2 separate regions of the Homo sapiens genome follow, and region 2 is linked to region 1. Evidence: fine-mapped expression QTL. Tissue or cell type: spleen. Region 1 holds a variant in brackets; the other region holds the start of a gene. All regions are shown on one strand. Distances are from middle to middle.

Region 1 (8,000 bases):
GGTGGACCACCTGAGGTCAAGAGTTTGAGACCTGCCTGGCCAACATGGTGAAACCCCATCTCTACTGAAAAAAAAAAAAAAAAAAAATTGCCTGGCGTGGTGGTGCATGCCTGTAATCCCAGCTACTCAGGAGGCTGAGGCAGCAGAATCACTTGAACCTGGGAGGCAAAGGCTTCAGTGAGCCGAGATCATGCCACTGCACTCCAGGCTGGGTGACAGAATGAGACCCTGTTGAAAGAAAGAAAAGAGACAAAAGAGAGAAAAGAGAGACAGAGAGTGAGAGAGCAAAAGCTCTATTTGTATCACTATTTTATAGATGAGGAAACTAAGGCTCAGAGAAGTGAAGGAGTTTTCTAAAGGTCACACAGTAAGTGGTGATAGAACCAGGAAACAGCAAGGCAGTGAGATTCCAGAACTCCCTCACTTAACTGTGGTGTGTGTATTCATTTCCTAAGGCTGCAGAAGACTCGGGGGCTTAAAACAACAGAAATGTATTCTCTCACAGTTCTGAAGGCCAGAAACCTAAAATCAAGGTGTCGGGAGTCTCACACTCTAAGGCTCTAGGGGAGATTCCTTCCTTGCCTCTTCCAGTTTCTGGCGGCTTTCCTAGCTTGTAGCTCAACAACTACCACCTCTATCTCTCTTTATATGGGCTTCTCCTCTGTGTCTGTGTCTTCTCCTCTTCTGTGTCTTATAAGGACATTTGTCATTGAATTTAGGGCCCACCCAAATAATTCAAGATGATCTCATCATGACATCTTTAAGTTAATTACATCTGCAAAGACCCTTTATCCAAATAAGGTCACATTTATGGTTCCAAGGGTTAAGACATGGACCTATCTTTTGAAGGATCACCATGCTACCCAGTGCAGTGTGTATAGAGTGCACAGTTTAATGAGTGTTAATTGTTTAATCAAAGTTAGCTGTCACTATGCACCTGACACTATGTGCTAGGAAGACGAAATTACTAAAGCATAGCCCTGGCCCACAATGAGCCTACTCTACAGCAAGAGAGACAGATGTGTTAACAAGACAGGTTACAATAAAAGCACGAAGAGGGCACAGGTGACGCACAAGAAAAGAAATGCCAAATTCTGTGAAGGTGGGAGTCAGGAAAGTGTGCACAGAAGAAACGCCATGAATTCTCCTATAAAGTGGACAAGGGGTGGGCAAGGAAGAGGACATTCTAAGAAGAGGAGGTGGCAAAGACAAAAGCACAGAGATGTAAAACAGGCAGAACCATTCGGGGAGCTGTAAATAATTTAGTGTGGCTTGACATTGCTGCTCAAGGGCAGGGAGGTTAAGAGAAATCCTGGAGAGGTGGCCTGGGACCAGATTAAAGAGGACGCTTCATTCTAAGCTGAAGGAAGCCAGGGCGGTTTTAAGCAAAAAAGTAATAATAGATCTGAGTTTCCAAAGAATCATAGGTAAGCTTCCATGTGGCAGCACAGACAAGAGAGAATGAGTGCCAGCCCTTGGGTCACTGCAGCGTGTATGGAGTTGAGGGGACAAATTGGAGCTACCTACGAAGGTGGAACTATCAAGGTCCCGTTACTGTCGGAGGGGAAGGGAGGGCTCTAAGTTGATTTCCAGACTGAGAAATAACTCCCTTTTTAGAACTCTTGGTTTCTATAATGCTTCTCCTTCCTTGCTCTTCTTGTTCTTTTCTTATCTCTCTGATAATTTTGTCTCAGATCCTTTATCATCTGCACCTTGCACCTCCCCTGGCCATCCCTCAAATGGTGGTGCACCCAGGGTTCTGCCCTTGACCCACTTCTCTCCCCTTTCCACTGTTCACTCTGAGCCATCTCATCCACTCTCATGGTTTCAGCTATCCTGTCCCCGCAAATAAGGCTTATAGCTACATGTCCAGCCCAAATCATTCACTCTACCTCCAGGCCCAAATCCAAGTGCTTACTAGACATTTCCACCTATATGACCCACCCATGTTCTAAATTCTATACATTCTCATTGCTGCTGTCACCAAATCTGTGACAAATCTAATTACTCTTGTCATCATAATTTTTGTGACTAGCACTAAAAGGGTCAACAGTATTCAGTGCTGCAGAAGGTCAAGAACAACTTGAAAAGTCCATTGGATTTGGCACCTTGGAGAAGTGAGAGATGAGGAAGTGCAAAAGGCAATTTCAGACTACCCTTTAAGGAGCTGAACTGTGAAAAGAAGGAGACAAGGAGGGAGAATGAGCATCAAGGAAAGCTTTCATGTTTGTTTAATAAGATGAGAGTGATTTGAGCATATTTATGGGCCACAGTGATAGTTGATATTTTGGGTAAGACTATTCTTGACAGTGGGACACTAACACATATATTACAGGCCACTTAACATGCCGGTTCTCTAAGTTCTCAGTGCCTGTGGCGCACGCGTGCATACACACACACACACACACACACACACACTCTCACACACACCAGTTATTATGGCATCCAAAAATCACCCTCATACATTCCCAAACATCTTCTAAGAATCCCTAAAAGGGAAGATACCAGTAGAGAGGAATAAGTTGAAAGTTAAGAAAAAAAGAAAATAACTGATGAACCAAGATCCTAATTCTGGAGAAGACTAGACTAAAGACACAAAAGAGGGTTTGGCGTGAGACAAGGGAAATGCACCATGTTTGGGCTTTGATTCCTACAGGCATTGGTTGAATTCCCAGGATGTCACTTCCTTTGAGACACAGTGTACTACACTGTCTGTTGACTACACTGTCTGTTGACTAGCCCCAAAGCCATTCCCACTCCTTTCCCCCCTTGTCACCTCCACCAGAGAGACTTGCAACGTCCACAGAGTTGCCCATGTGACATTGTTTGGGCTCATGAAATCAAGGATGTGGGGAAGACTTCTTCTAATCCAATACCAACCCACTTCTTCTTCCTTCGTTAAGTATGAGCATGATGGATGACTAACGCTGGAGCAGCCACCTTCCAACCATGACAAAATGCCAGGCGAACCCCAGATGTCAGTACTGACATCACTGAGCCAGTGAACCACCCCCAGCAGCCTCTGTCTCTAGACTCTTTGTTCTGAGACACCCACAGACTCATTTGTTTAAGCTACGGTGAGCAAATCACTACCTAAAGGTATTGGACAACATAGTTAACCTCTCTGATCTATAGTTTCCTTGTCTCTAAAATAAAGATAAAATATGTGCCTTCTAAATTCAATGAAAACATTAAATGAGATAAAATATATAAGATGACTAGCTCATATAAAGTGACTAACTCAGAGTTTGACAAAAAATAAATGATCAGTGTCAGTCTTTCTCATCATAACCTCAAAATAACTTACAATAATTAGATCTTCTTTGTCCGTGTAAAATAGAATTATAGCAATAAACCTTTATTGTACTCAGAAAGGTAGAATAAAAATAACCACCTTTAATGTTACTCTCCTGCATGCTAGACCTTTAAACTACAGAATCAAAATACAATTTTGAATAAAATGTAGATCTAACAGTAAGACAAAAAGAATCACAGAAGTCTCAGAAAGGGGACTAAAAATATACTCTTTGTATAGAACTCATAATTCAGGGAGTTTTTTTCAGCAATATCAATGTGATGTAAAAATTGGCTGGCAATATTTAGTAAATTTATGTTTTCTTGTATCTGTAACATTTTACTACTTCC[C/T]ACCTAGTACCACGAATATTTTCTTCATGTAATAATTCACTTTTTTTTAACATATTAACACTTCCAAATCTATGAGTGACTCTGATTCAAACACTATTTTATTCCGTTATGTTTTTAGAAAATGATCTTGACTTGTCTTTAATGCTTATATCCTATGTGTATCAGTTTGTTGAAATCACTTTATGTCTCTGCTTTGAAAATCCTGATAAGTTCTGATCAAGTCAATATCAGTAATTGCATCACCAAAGAGGTGGAACCTACTGAGCTGTTGTTTATCCACCATGTCTAAATGGAAGCAGGTTAACATCCCCAAATCTTCTATTTCTGTTAATAGGAAAAATTAGAATCCATTTTCCTCAAGTGATTTAGGACAAGTCTGGTTTTTGAGAATGCAAGATGGCATATACTAAGCACCAACTGTCTACCATGCACTGGGTACATTGCGTCATAAGGCTTGCTACCCTTTATAAGCTGGGTGTTATTTTTGTTTTCACTTTACAGAAGGAGATTTTGAGGCTCAGAGAGTCTGAAGAGTCCAACTAAGGTCACATGGCTGAGAATGAATAGAGCTCAAGCCCATTGACTCCAAAGTCTGCATTCTCTCCTTGTGCTGGTACCTTCTTTTAGACACCATCACGTCCCTGGAAAATGTATGACAAGTGATGGCTGGTGTGTTACTTTCCAGCACCAAGTGCCTGTATTTCTATGAATGTCGAAGCAATTTCTGGGCTTCAATTGTTACAAGCATTAACACTGCTCCTAAAGAAAATCCTAGCTCCAATTTTTAAAGACAGGATGTGCTGGCCAACAAGAAACACATTTCACAGAAGCAGGTGGAAAGAGCCAGCCAGACAGAGCTACATCACTACAAAGTTTCCAGTGCCTTAGAGAGCACTGCCTACCCATCTTTCCCCAAAATATAGTTCAAGTAGGGAAAATTGGAGAGAAGAAACTGAACTCCAGGTAATTTTGTCCTGGCTTTTTTTTCTTACTCCCTCATCGTATGCACTGGGAAAAAGTCTTAAAGTCAAGCATGTCTGAATTCAGATTTCAGTCCCACTATTGTTGTAGATGTGTGACTTTGGCCAACATACATAAACGCTCTCTGATTTAGTTTCCCCATCAAGAAAGAAGAAATACTACTACTTCCCTCATGGGATTGCATAAGAATTAAAATGCTCATTAACATCATGCCTGGTTCAAAATTGACATATTATGTTAGTTTTTTTCCTCTCACTTTTCCTACCTCTATGTCTTAATACCCTTCATCCAAGAAATGCCATAACATTACAGTTTTCTCCCAAAGTATTCTGTCCCGAGGAATATTATATCACAGACAACTAAAAGCAAGGTAACAATCTAACAGACACCAGAAATTAGTGAAGAAGCGTAGGGTAAGGCATGAGTAACATGTAGCCATCTTGGTTTCAAGATTATGTTGGATATGCAAATCCATATGAGCCAAGGGAAGGCAATAGTCTACTCCCAGTGTCACACACCACTGCCAGCCCATCTACTCTCTCCAAACCCACTGTCATTAAGCAAGTGGGGGTAGAGGATAGGGGAAGAGGGCCAGAGGATGAAGCCAAAGAAGAGTAGGGCCATCTTCCTATCCCCAATTAGATTCCAAAATGTGGCTCTCAGTACAGAAAATGAAAAGTGCTATTGAAAGCATCCATTCCCAAAGAAGCAATTTATTATTTATTTTATTTTATTTTTGAGACAGAGTCTCGCTCTGTCACTCAGGCTGGAGTGCAGTGGTGCAATCTCGGCTCACTGCAACCTCCATCTCCCAGGTTCAAGCAATTCTCCTACATCAACCTCCCAAGTAGCTGTGATTACAGGTGTGCGTCACCACGCCCAATTTTTGTATTTTTAATAGACACGGGGTTTCACCATGTTGGCCAGAATGGTCTCGAACTCCTTACTTAGGGTGATCTGCCTGCCTCCGCCTCCAAAGTGCTGGGATTACAGGCATGAGCCACCGTGCCTGGCCCCCAAAGAAGCAATTTAGAAAGGAAAGAATCATAGCAATAGACTCCACAGTAAGAATATTTTTGCATGTCATCTAAGGAAGAATAAGATCCAGAATGTGATGCACGTTTTAGCTACCATGCTACACCCTGATCAACATGTCTATTTCCAGATCCTGACCCTTTACTCAGCATACCCTTTTCTTCCCCATTCTTGGAGCATTAAAGTTGGATCTTGAATCCTTTTGCCTGCTCCTACTGTAACTTCTACCTTTCTATTTTCCTTCCTACCTTCTGCTCAAGCCATTTTCATTAGTCCTAATGCCAAGGACAAAACAGTTGTCATTGACTCTGTCATTCCCTATCACTACTCCTTATTTCCCTCACCTAAAGTGTCTGTTTGCCACGGTACTGCCCTAAAATCTTCCATATATTTTATTTCATTTTATCTTCAAAATGTAAGGTGTATAGGGCAGAACACAAAATTTATATCTCATAAACTATAAACTGAGTATCATGTAGTATAACTAATGTGTTTGTCCACATTTTCAAAGCTCATCAGAATGGAGACTAAAACTCAGGGATGTATAATTCTTAGTTCAGTGTCTTATGATGCAGAATTGTATAATAGAAAGCATAGGTTTCAAAACAGGTATTCCTGAGATTTGAATTCTAGTCCCATTGCTAATAGTGGGCTGTGATATCCTGGATTAGTTACTTAACCTTTCTAAGCTAAAATCTGAAAACCCAGGGAAGATTTCAGACAATCAGTAGAAAAACCTCCTAGAAATAAATGGAAATACATCTAGCTTCAGTTCATTATTTGGATTCAGATGGGCATCTTAAATCCAGGATCTCAGGGAGAATAAAAGCAATTATAACAAGGCAAAATAAAATAGGCTCTTTATACTCAGGTGGGGAACTGCCAAAAAGCACCTCATACATTTTTAAACATTCTCCATTACTATTCGAAACAGTCTCTGTTACAAGCACCTAGCAGTTCTTTCCAGGTTAGAGATTTTCTTTAAGGGACCCCGTGTGGCTGCAGCAGGCTTCCATACTACTTGTGAGCCTCAGCTTCCCTGGTGGGGTGAGACCAAGACTCCCACCTCACACTTCAGAGCCTTCCCCCAGATTTTCACCTTTCAACCATATGCCCTTCTTGGGTGGTCTCCAATTTAGAGTTTTTTCTACAATGGTCCATGCTGCTTTTCGATTCTCATTCTTTTCCTGCATCATGATACACTCTCACTCCCTTCAAACTGCTCCACATGGCCTTCAGCTTCACCTGCTGAATGTTAGGCTGGACACTTCAGTGAAGCACTTGCCATGTATCACCTCATTTAATCCTCGACAACCCTGTAATCAACATATTAGTATCCCCATTATACAGGCAAGGAAACAAACGTTGAGAGTCAGGGATTGGTGACTTGTCCTGATTCTAACATTTAGGAAGTGATGCCCGAATCCAGCTTGGACTCTAAATTCTGATTTTTTAATAGCCCTACTCAGCTAGCCCCCGTGCTTCTTTCCACCATAATATAAAGCTCATTTCCTCTTTGGGAAAGCAGAGTGCTAATTAATGTTCTTACTGATTAATTAGCATATGCAAAAAAGTGAGCACATGCTATTTGACGAGGTGCTGAACTGCTGAACTGTGTCTGTGCTGTTGTCAAAAGTCTTCAGAAGAATGCTGTCCTTCCAGCATCAAAAACTTCTTGAATACAAACTTTATCCCTGTAATGCAATCATCCACAAGAGCACTTAATAAGTGGGTTTTATTGGAAATAAACTAACAACAAAAACTTAAGTTAAAACAGACTGACAATTACCTGTCTCCGAGAAGGGGAGAACAAAATAGAAGGCTTATTGATCATCCTTCAGACGATTACTATGAGCCTTCAGTGTGGCCAAGCTACATGTCTTAGATTTACTGCATCAGTTCCACTTTCAAATGTTTTTTGTCCTATTCCCCTGTTGTTGATTAATAGTTGTCCAACTGTGTGTCCCCATTCTATGTTTGTAAAATATGGTCATGGTACTTAAAAATAAACTTCTATTAAAAAAACAAAACAAAACAAAAAAAAAACCTGGCCTTAGTTTTGAGGTGTTTTATCTTTGAAATTTGTCCCAAAGGCTTTTTTCTCTGAGATTTGGGGACTCTTTTTATTGGCCTTTATGCAAATCTGTTAAGCCCCCAAACATTCCTCTGCATGGCTGCTGGGAAGTTTGCTGCTGGCACTCTCTCTCCAGGTAGCTCCTGCCACCACCCATTCAGCATCGAACGCCTGGGGCTGAGCCTCCAACTTTCCAGGATCTCCATTACTGGATCTTTTTCTTTCTTCTTTTCCCTCTTGCTGCTTACCTTTTAGAAACTATTCT
Region 2 (8,146 bases), 930 kb before region 1:
GTGTTGCATTTAACTTTAAAAGAAAACTAGAGTTTAGAAAGAAAAATGGCTGTTTATATATTCTGCATAATGGAGAGGTTTCCTTCCTTCCTTCCTTCCCTCCTTCCCTCCCTCCCTCCTTCCTTCCTTCCCTCCCTCCCTCCCTCCTTCTTTTCTTCTCTTTTCTTTTCTTTCTTGACGGAGTCTCGCTTTGTTGCCCAGGCTGGAGTGCAGTGGCGCGATCTGGGCTCACTGCAAGCTCCGCCTCCTGGGTTCACACCATTCTCCCGCCTCAGCCTCCCAAGTAGCTGGGACTACAGGCGCCTGCCACCACGCCCGGCTAACTTTTGGTACTTTTAGTACAGATGGGGTTTCACCGCATTAGCGAGCTTGGTCCCAATCTCCTGACCTTGTGATCCGCCCGCCTCGGCCTCCCAAAGTGCTGGGATTACAGGCATGAGCCACCGTGCCCGGCCTCTCTTCTCTTTCCTTTTCTTTCTCTCTTTCTCTCTTTCTTTCTCTCTTTCTCTCTTTCTTTCTCTCTCTTTCTCTCTTTCTCTTTCTTTCTTTTCTTTTCTTTCCTTCCTTCCTTCCTTCCTTCCTTCCTTCCTTCCTTCCTTTTCTTTCTTCCCTCCCTCCTTCCTTCCTTCCTTCCTTCCTTCCTTTCCTTCCTTCCTTCCTTCCTTCCTTCCTTCCTTCCTTCCTTCCTTCCTTCTTTCTTTTTCTTTCTTTCTTTCTTTCTTTCTTTCTTTCTTTCTTTCTTTCTTTCTTTCTTTCTTTCTTTCTTTCTTTCTTTCTTCTTTTTCTTTCTTTTCTTTCTTGTCTTGCCCTGTCACCCAGGCTGGGCAATCTACCTGCCCTAGGCTTCTGAGTAACTTGGACTACAGGTGTGCACCATCACACCTAGCTTTTTTTGATTTTTTATAGAGATGGCGGGGGTGGGGGGGCTCTCTCTATGTTGCCCAGGCTGGTCTTGAACTCCCAAGCTCAAGCAGTCCTTCTGCCTTGGCCTCCCAAAGTGCTGAGATTACAGGTGTCAGTCACCATGGCTGGCTGTGGAGAAGCTTTCATGCTCCCCAGACATCTTCTTCAGTAGTCTGTGAGAATCTCAGAAATTCCTGGTATGTGTGGGGTACCGGCTGGTGGCTGTGTGTACAGACACACCCACACATCCACCCACATCCATGTCCACTCCTGTATACACCAATTGGCCGTAAGCCTAAGGTATGGAGAGTCATTTCTACACGTGAGATGAAACCAGTGCCCTTGCCTCCTATCACCGTATGTGTATGTGCACACTGTCATGCCAAATAAAACACATTTCCATTCAAGGCAGTAGCAAAACAGGGTTGCCGATTGTGTGGCTGAAAAGCAGTGCATGTCACCAACTGTCCCTAACTCACGGTGAGTGATCCATCCCTGTGACCTTGATTTTCACGATCTTTCATTTTTATTTACCTTTTATCTTTTGTAGAGATGGGTTCTCACTATGTTGCCCAGGCTGATCTTGAACTCCTGGGATCGAGCAGTCATCCCTCCTCGGCCTCCCAAGTAGCTGGGACTACAAGCTGGCCCAGATATAAGCAGGCAGTTTTTAATTTTTTTTATTATTATTTTTTGAAACGAACTCTCTATTGCCCAGGCTGGAGTGCAGTGGCGCGATCTCAGCTCACTGCAACCTCCACCTCCCAGGTTCAAGAGATTCTCTTGCCTCAGCCTCCCGAGTAGCTGGGATTACAGCTACTTGGCTGTACACCATGCCCGGCTAATTTTGTATTTTTAGTAGAGACGGGGTTTCACTATGTTGGCCAGGCTGATCTCCAACTCTTGATCTGCTCACTTCAGCCTCCCAAAGTGCTGGGATTACAGGCGTGAGCCACCGTGCCCGGCTAGAGCAGGCAGTTTAATGCTGGGCTCCCATAGTGGTAAGTCTTCAGGGTACTGAAATTTCGAATTTAGATTTATTTGTTGGTTTGTGTGTTTTTCTCTATTATATAGGCTTTAGAAGGACAGAAATTTGTTCTGTTTTTCTCAGTATTCCCTGAGCCTAGGACAGTGCCTGTACACATGGGTAAAATGAATAAACTTTTTGGGAGAAGGGTATTTTTTTTTCTTTTGTCACAGGCTAATTAGAATGATGTCCTTTCACTCAGAGAACACAGCCCTCAGGTTCTTCTCTTGTCTATTCTGGTGTCTTGAATGCCAATTTGTCTTCAAATAATTTTGATGAATTTCAGCTGATCAACCATCAGATTTTTGTGTGTGTTTCCATATAAGAACACTTAAATCCAGTGTGATAAAAGCAACTTACAAGCCCGAGGCTTGGAAGAAAGGAAAGGAATTTTTTACTTCTTGGGCTGAATACATTTCATCACATCCCAATTTATTTCCCTGAGGCTTTTCTTTGTCAAGCTTGGGAAAGTGCTGTTTCCTAGGAGAACCACACAAGAACAAACTTTAAATATGAGAAAAGAGAAAAGCACACCCCAAAGCAAAACAAAACAAAAAAAACCCCCAAAAACAATAAGAGAAGCATTTTAGATGGATTTTCTCCAAAGATCGATTGCATTGTGTTCCAAACGCATTTCTTTTCTTTCTTTTTTAAATTTTTTTTGAGATGAAGTTTCACTCTGTTACGCAGGCTGAGGTGCAGTGGCATGATCTTGGCTGACTGCAACCTCCACCTCCTGGGTTCAAGTGATTCTCCCGCCTCAGCTTTTCAAGTAGCTTCAGGTGCCCACCACCATGCCTGGCTAATTTTGTATTTTTAGTAGAGATGGGGTTTCACCACGTTGGCTAGGCTGGTCTCAAACTCCTGACCTCAAGTGATCCACCCGCCTCAGCCTCCCAAAGTGCTGGGATTACAGGCGTGAGTCACTGTGCCCAGTGTAAAGTGCATTTCTTTTCTAAACTGACTTGAACCAAAATGGATGAACAAGGACCCTTCAGATGATATACACCAAACTGGAAACAGATGAGAATGCCAGCAAATGGGCTCAGGAGGAATTTATCTTCTTGAATTTTCAGGCATAAGCTGATTTTGACAATGTTTTCTCTTACAAAAACAGGGTGAGCGTGTTCTGGATGGAGGCTGGGTGGGAACCCCAGGTCAGAGCAGATGTGGAACTGGGGCATGGGGAAGACTATACCCCAAAGAGGTGGGGGTGGGGAAGAAGATGAAAAGTGAAAGACGAATGTTCCCAGGGGCAGGAATTCATAAACTTTTTCCATTGATTCTGCCCTCTCAAGCCAATCACTTTCTGCCTTTTTGGACCAAATTGGGAAAGCCTGGACAGTCTGCTACAAACCAGACCAGAGCCTTTCCTTGTCAACAGAGCAGCGCTTCCTAAACTTATACTGCGTTAAAAATCACATGGGAATTTGTTAAAAATGCAGTGTCTGGAGGCCTCCTAGAGGTTCTGATTTAGTTGGTCTGAGTCAGGGTCCAAGAATTTGTATCCAGAGCAAGTATCCCGGCGATTCTTCTGCTTGGACAGGGTTGGGACAAGGCGTCGGCCAGTCATCCACATTGTCTTTTTGCAGATCCACTAATCTTCCATGCAGGCTCCAACAGCTCCTTCCCGGCCTGGGAACCCAAATCCGCAGGAAGAATCTCGGGGTGTTGTCTTGGCTTATTCATTCAGAGCTGTCGTGTGTGGTTCTGCAAACAGTACTCAGATGCGTTCCCTCTCCCCGTAGGGATCTTGCTGGAGATGCCCAGGGTTAACAGTGGAACTCCATATGGAGACAGAGGCATGGGGGGAGCTTCGCTGGAGATGGGACAGCCTGCTCCACCGCGAAGCCTACTGAGGCTCTCTTCTTACGTACCCCGCGCAATCTCATCTCCCTGAACAACTTCCACCTCCACCTTTCAGCTCATTCCCTAATGTCTGCTTCTGTTGGAACTCCACAATCTCATCTTTATCTGCCTAGGTGTGTTACAGTAGGTAGCTGTCAGGTATGAGCAGGGCAGGAGAGGGTCTGTTCCAATAGCAGGAACCTCAGGTGACCATCAGGTGATGGTCAGGCGGCTGTTAGTCTGTCGCTCTAAAATAATAATTGGTCGCAGCCGGTGCTAGGGAAAGACAGGCTCCCAGTAGATAGAAAACACCTGAAACGGGTGATAAGCAGCTTCCCGGTAAGATCTTAGCAGTTGGGCGAGTGTACTCAAGCATGAGCACTAACAGGCAGAATGCCAGAGTTTAACTGGTATATGACCTTCTAGGGACATTCGACTGATAAGGGAAGAACGCCTCACGTGAGCATGTGTACAACTCCTGCATGCGTACAAACACACTGCGCATGCTCCCCTCCCAGGCGCTGGCAGGCCACACACTGCGCATGCTCCCCTCCCAGGTGCCGGCAGGCCACACACTGCGCATGCTCCCCTCCCAGGTGCTGGCAGGCCACACACTGCGCATGCTCCCCTCCCAGGTGCTGGCAGGCCACACACTGCGCATGCTCCCCTCCCAGGTGCTGGCAGGCCACTGCGCAAGTGTGGACAGCCTACACCAAGGGAAGAGTCAGGGGAGAAGGAACACAAGACTCCGGAAGCATGCCAGCGTATAAAACCGTAAGTCAAAGGTCAGACTGTCCAGTGGGTGATCTCTCAAGTCGCCCGCTTGGCCTCTTCCAAGTGTACTTTACTTCCTTTCATTCCTGCTCTAAAACTTTTTAATAAACTTTCATTCCTGCTCTAATACTTGCCTCAGTCACTCCTGCCTTACCACAATATTTTTTAAAACAAAATCAATACCAAAAAGCCCATGATAAACAACATATCAAAATTTTATAAAAGCAGGCTGTTTGGTTTGTTTTACGACCTTGCGTTACTGCAAGAGAGGAGCCGTTTCCAATCAGGCTTTGGATCCTGGGCTTATGTGGCTGCTGTGTCCCTGCCATGGATCTGTGAGGGTTGACAATGGGGTACAAACAAATTGGGCAATATATATATACACATATATGTGTATATACATATATACACATATATGTGTATATATACATATATACACACATACATGTGTATATATATACATATATACATATATACACACATACATGTGTATATATATACATATATACATATATACACATACACATATATGTGTATATATATAATATATACATATATACACATACACATATATGTGTATATATATAATATATACATATATACACATACACATATGTGTATATATATAATATATACATATATACACATATACACATATATGTGTATATATATAATATATACATATATACACATATACACATATATGTGTATATATAATATATACATATATACATATATGTATATGTGTGTATATACACACATATATGTATATATGTATATATGTACATACACACACACACACACACATATATATAGTTTGTTTGTATTTTGAGAGGGAAGAAAGATGAAAGAAAGGGAGGGCTTAAAAAATTTTTTTTGAGACAGCATCTTGCTCTGTTGCCCAGGCTAAAGTGCAGTGGCACCATCATGGCCCACTGTTGCCTCAACCTCTCAAGCCCCATCAATTCTCCCACCTCAGCCTCCCGAGTAGTTGGAACTATGGGTGTGTGCCACCATTCTTGGGTACTTTCTAAAAAATTTATTAAAATATTTGAGACAGGGTCTTGCTTTGTTGCCAGGCTGGAGTGCAGCGGTGCAATCACAGCTCACTGCAGTCTTAACCTCCTGGGCTCAAGCAATCCTCCTGCCTCAGCTGCCTGAGTAGCTGGGTTCACAGGTACGTGCCACCACGGCCAGCTAATTTTTTTGATTTTTAGTAGAGACGGTGCCTTGCTATGTTGCCCAGGCTGATCTCGAACTCCTGGATTCAAGCAATCCTTCCGTCTTAACGTCCTAAAGTGCTGGGATTTCAGGCATGAGCCACCATGCCCAGCCTCTTGGATATTTTTATTAGATTTTTTTTTTTTTTTGTAGAGATGGGGGTCTTGCTGTGTTGCCCAGGCTGGTCTTGAACTCCTGGGCTCAAATCATCCTGCCTTGGCCTCCAAAAGTGTTGGGATTACAAGTGTGAACCACTGTACCTGGCCTTTTTATTTTTGTTTTAAAAGAGAGAAGAAAGGGAGATGGGGGGAAGGAGGCTTTATATATATATATATATATATATATATATATAATTTCTTATTTTTATTTTTTTTAGATGGAGTCTTGCTCTGTTGCCCAGGCTTGAATGCAATGGTGCGATCTTGGCTCACTGCAACCTCTGCCTCCCAGGTTTAAGCGATTCTCCTGCCTCAGCCTCCCTAGTATCTGGGATTACAGGTGTATGCCACCACACCTGACTAATTTTTTTGTATTTTTAGTAGAGATGGGGTTTCACCACATTGACCCAGCTGGTCTCAAACTTCTGACCTCAAGTGATCCACCTGCCTCCGCCTCCCAAAGTGCTGGGATTATAGGCGTGAGCCATCGTGCCCGGCTGAGGCTTAATTTTTTGATTGGAGACTTTTAAATGACGTTTTTCCACTTGGTTCAAAGCATGGGAAGATATTTTGATAAGCGCATATAGGGACACACACGTTTCCTTCTGTCTCGGGCTCCAAGAGGGCCTAGCACAGCAGTGCTCACTGATGATCAGGCCTCTCCTTCCAGTGCTCTTCACACACAGACCATGTCTAGATTCCTCCTTTCGGGATGGAAGCCCTGTGGGGGCAGAGCCAACCTCTCCCGTTGCTTCTCTCTTTGTCTATCTCTGCTCCAGCATAAGGAGGGCTTGCAGCTGGCTGAATGAGCCTTGGTTTTCCTTGCAGCCTCACCTTCAGACAGACTTTTCTGACCTGCATACCTGGTCCAATGCTGTCAGTTGACTAGTTTGGGTTTTTTGTACTGCTCAAAGGCACCCAGCTGAGATGGTTGGGGTGGGGTTGGAATCCAGTCTCACTGCTGGCCAAGCCCTGGATGCTGGCCTGAGGTCACATCCTTTGGGGTGGGGGCACATTTTCAAATTCATCCACTCAGAGGGGGCACATGTTTCTAACTCACACACAGTCTCCCTGTGTGTGGCTGTTCTGAGTACCATTCCCAACATCATCTGCTCAGGGAATTTCTACCCCCCATCAACCTCGTGTAAGACAGAGCTTGAGCTTTTGACCTCCTCTGTGAAGTCTATTTTGCTCTCAGTCTCTTAGACAGAATTGCTTTTTGTCTAGGAGACAGAAGTTTCTAAGTGCTTACTCTTGAGTTCTATACTTACTTTGTGGCAGACTAGTGACAAACCATCAGCCGACCAGGCCCAGGTCTGGAGGCCACACTTCGAGGGCTCCACCTTAGACCAGCCCTCTGCTGCACACAGGGTGACCTTCTACATGTTTTTATGATGGAAGCAAGCTATCTCTGTGAATTGTAATTATGTGGACAAGCACGGAGCCACATGGCTGGCAGAGCAGTCTGGCATGCATCAGTCAAGAGCAGGGCAGTTCTTCTTTGATCTAAGAATGTCTTTGAAGAACACTAGAATAACAGATGGTAAAGTAAAATGTTCAGACAAGTAACTCCTTGCTTTACCTCAGGATACCAAACAACTGGTTCAGTGTCTATGTCAGTCAGGATGGGCTGGGTTAGCTGACATAACAAACAGCCCCAAGTCTCAGTGGCATAAAGCAACAAAGCTTTATTTCTTGCACACGCTGCATGTTCATCATGGAACCCAGATGAATGCAGCAGTTGCTATGTGGAATATTGCTTACCACCATGGGAGGAAGGAAAAAGCCCACAAGGGTCTTGCATCAACAATTAATTGCTTGGGACTTGGAAGTGACATCATTTCTGCTTTCAACTTGTAAGGCAGAATTAGTGTCATCATCCCCCACAACCTCAAAAGGTGCAAAAGTGCAAACTGGCAGTGTACCCAGAAGACAAGAGAGTTTGGAAATATTTGGAAAACAACAGTTATGACTACCACAGTGGCACGTTCCATAAAGTTGACAGATTTTCCTAATTTTCTAAATAACCACCCCTAGTAGTTGTTTTGGTGTCTAGAAAAATGAGTTGTCAACAGCAGGACACAGCAGTAACAACTGCAGTTAAAAACCGAAAGCACAGTCTTTTTTGAATATCATGCAGTGACATCTCTGCCAGTAGTAAAGATTCTCATGCGGTATGTGTCTGTTTTATGTTATAGAGGTGGCTCAGATTATG

The links. PIP is the estimated chance that this variant, and not a neighbour inherited with it, causes the effect.
Region 2: it holds the start of GPRC5D-AS1, and the variant in region 1 is fine-mapped to the expression of GPRC5D-AS1 in spleen (GTEx, PIP 0.97).

Annotation. Positions count from the first base shown.
Region 1 is chr12:13,854,983-13,862,982 of GRCh38, forward strand. All of the region lies in intron 3 of GRIN2B (glutamate ionotropic receptor NMDA type subunit 2B), which reads right to left. Among named protein-coding and RNA genes, the nearest start is that of GRIN2B, 120 kb to the right of the region's middle. The variant C/T (reference allele first, on the strand shown) is at 3,646.
Region 2 is chr12:12,923,252-12,931,397 of GRCh38, forward strand. GPRC5D-AS1 (GPRC5D and HEBP1 antisense RNA 1) reads left to right here and starts at 4,475. Exons shown (of 3, transcript NR_149067.1): 1 at 4,475-4,552.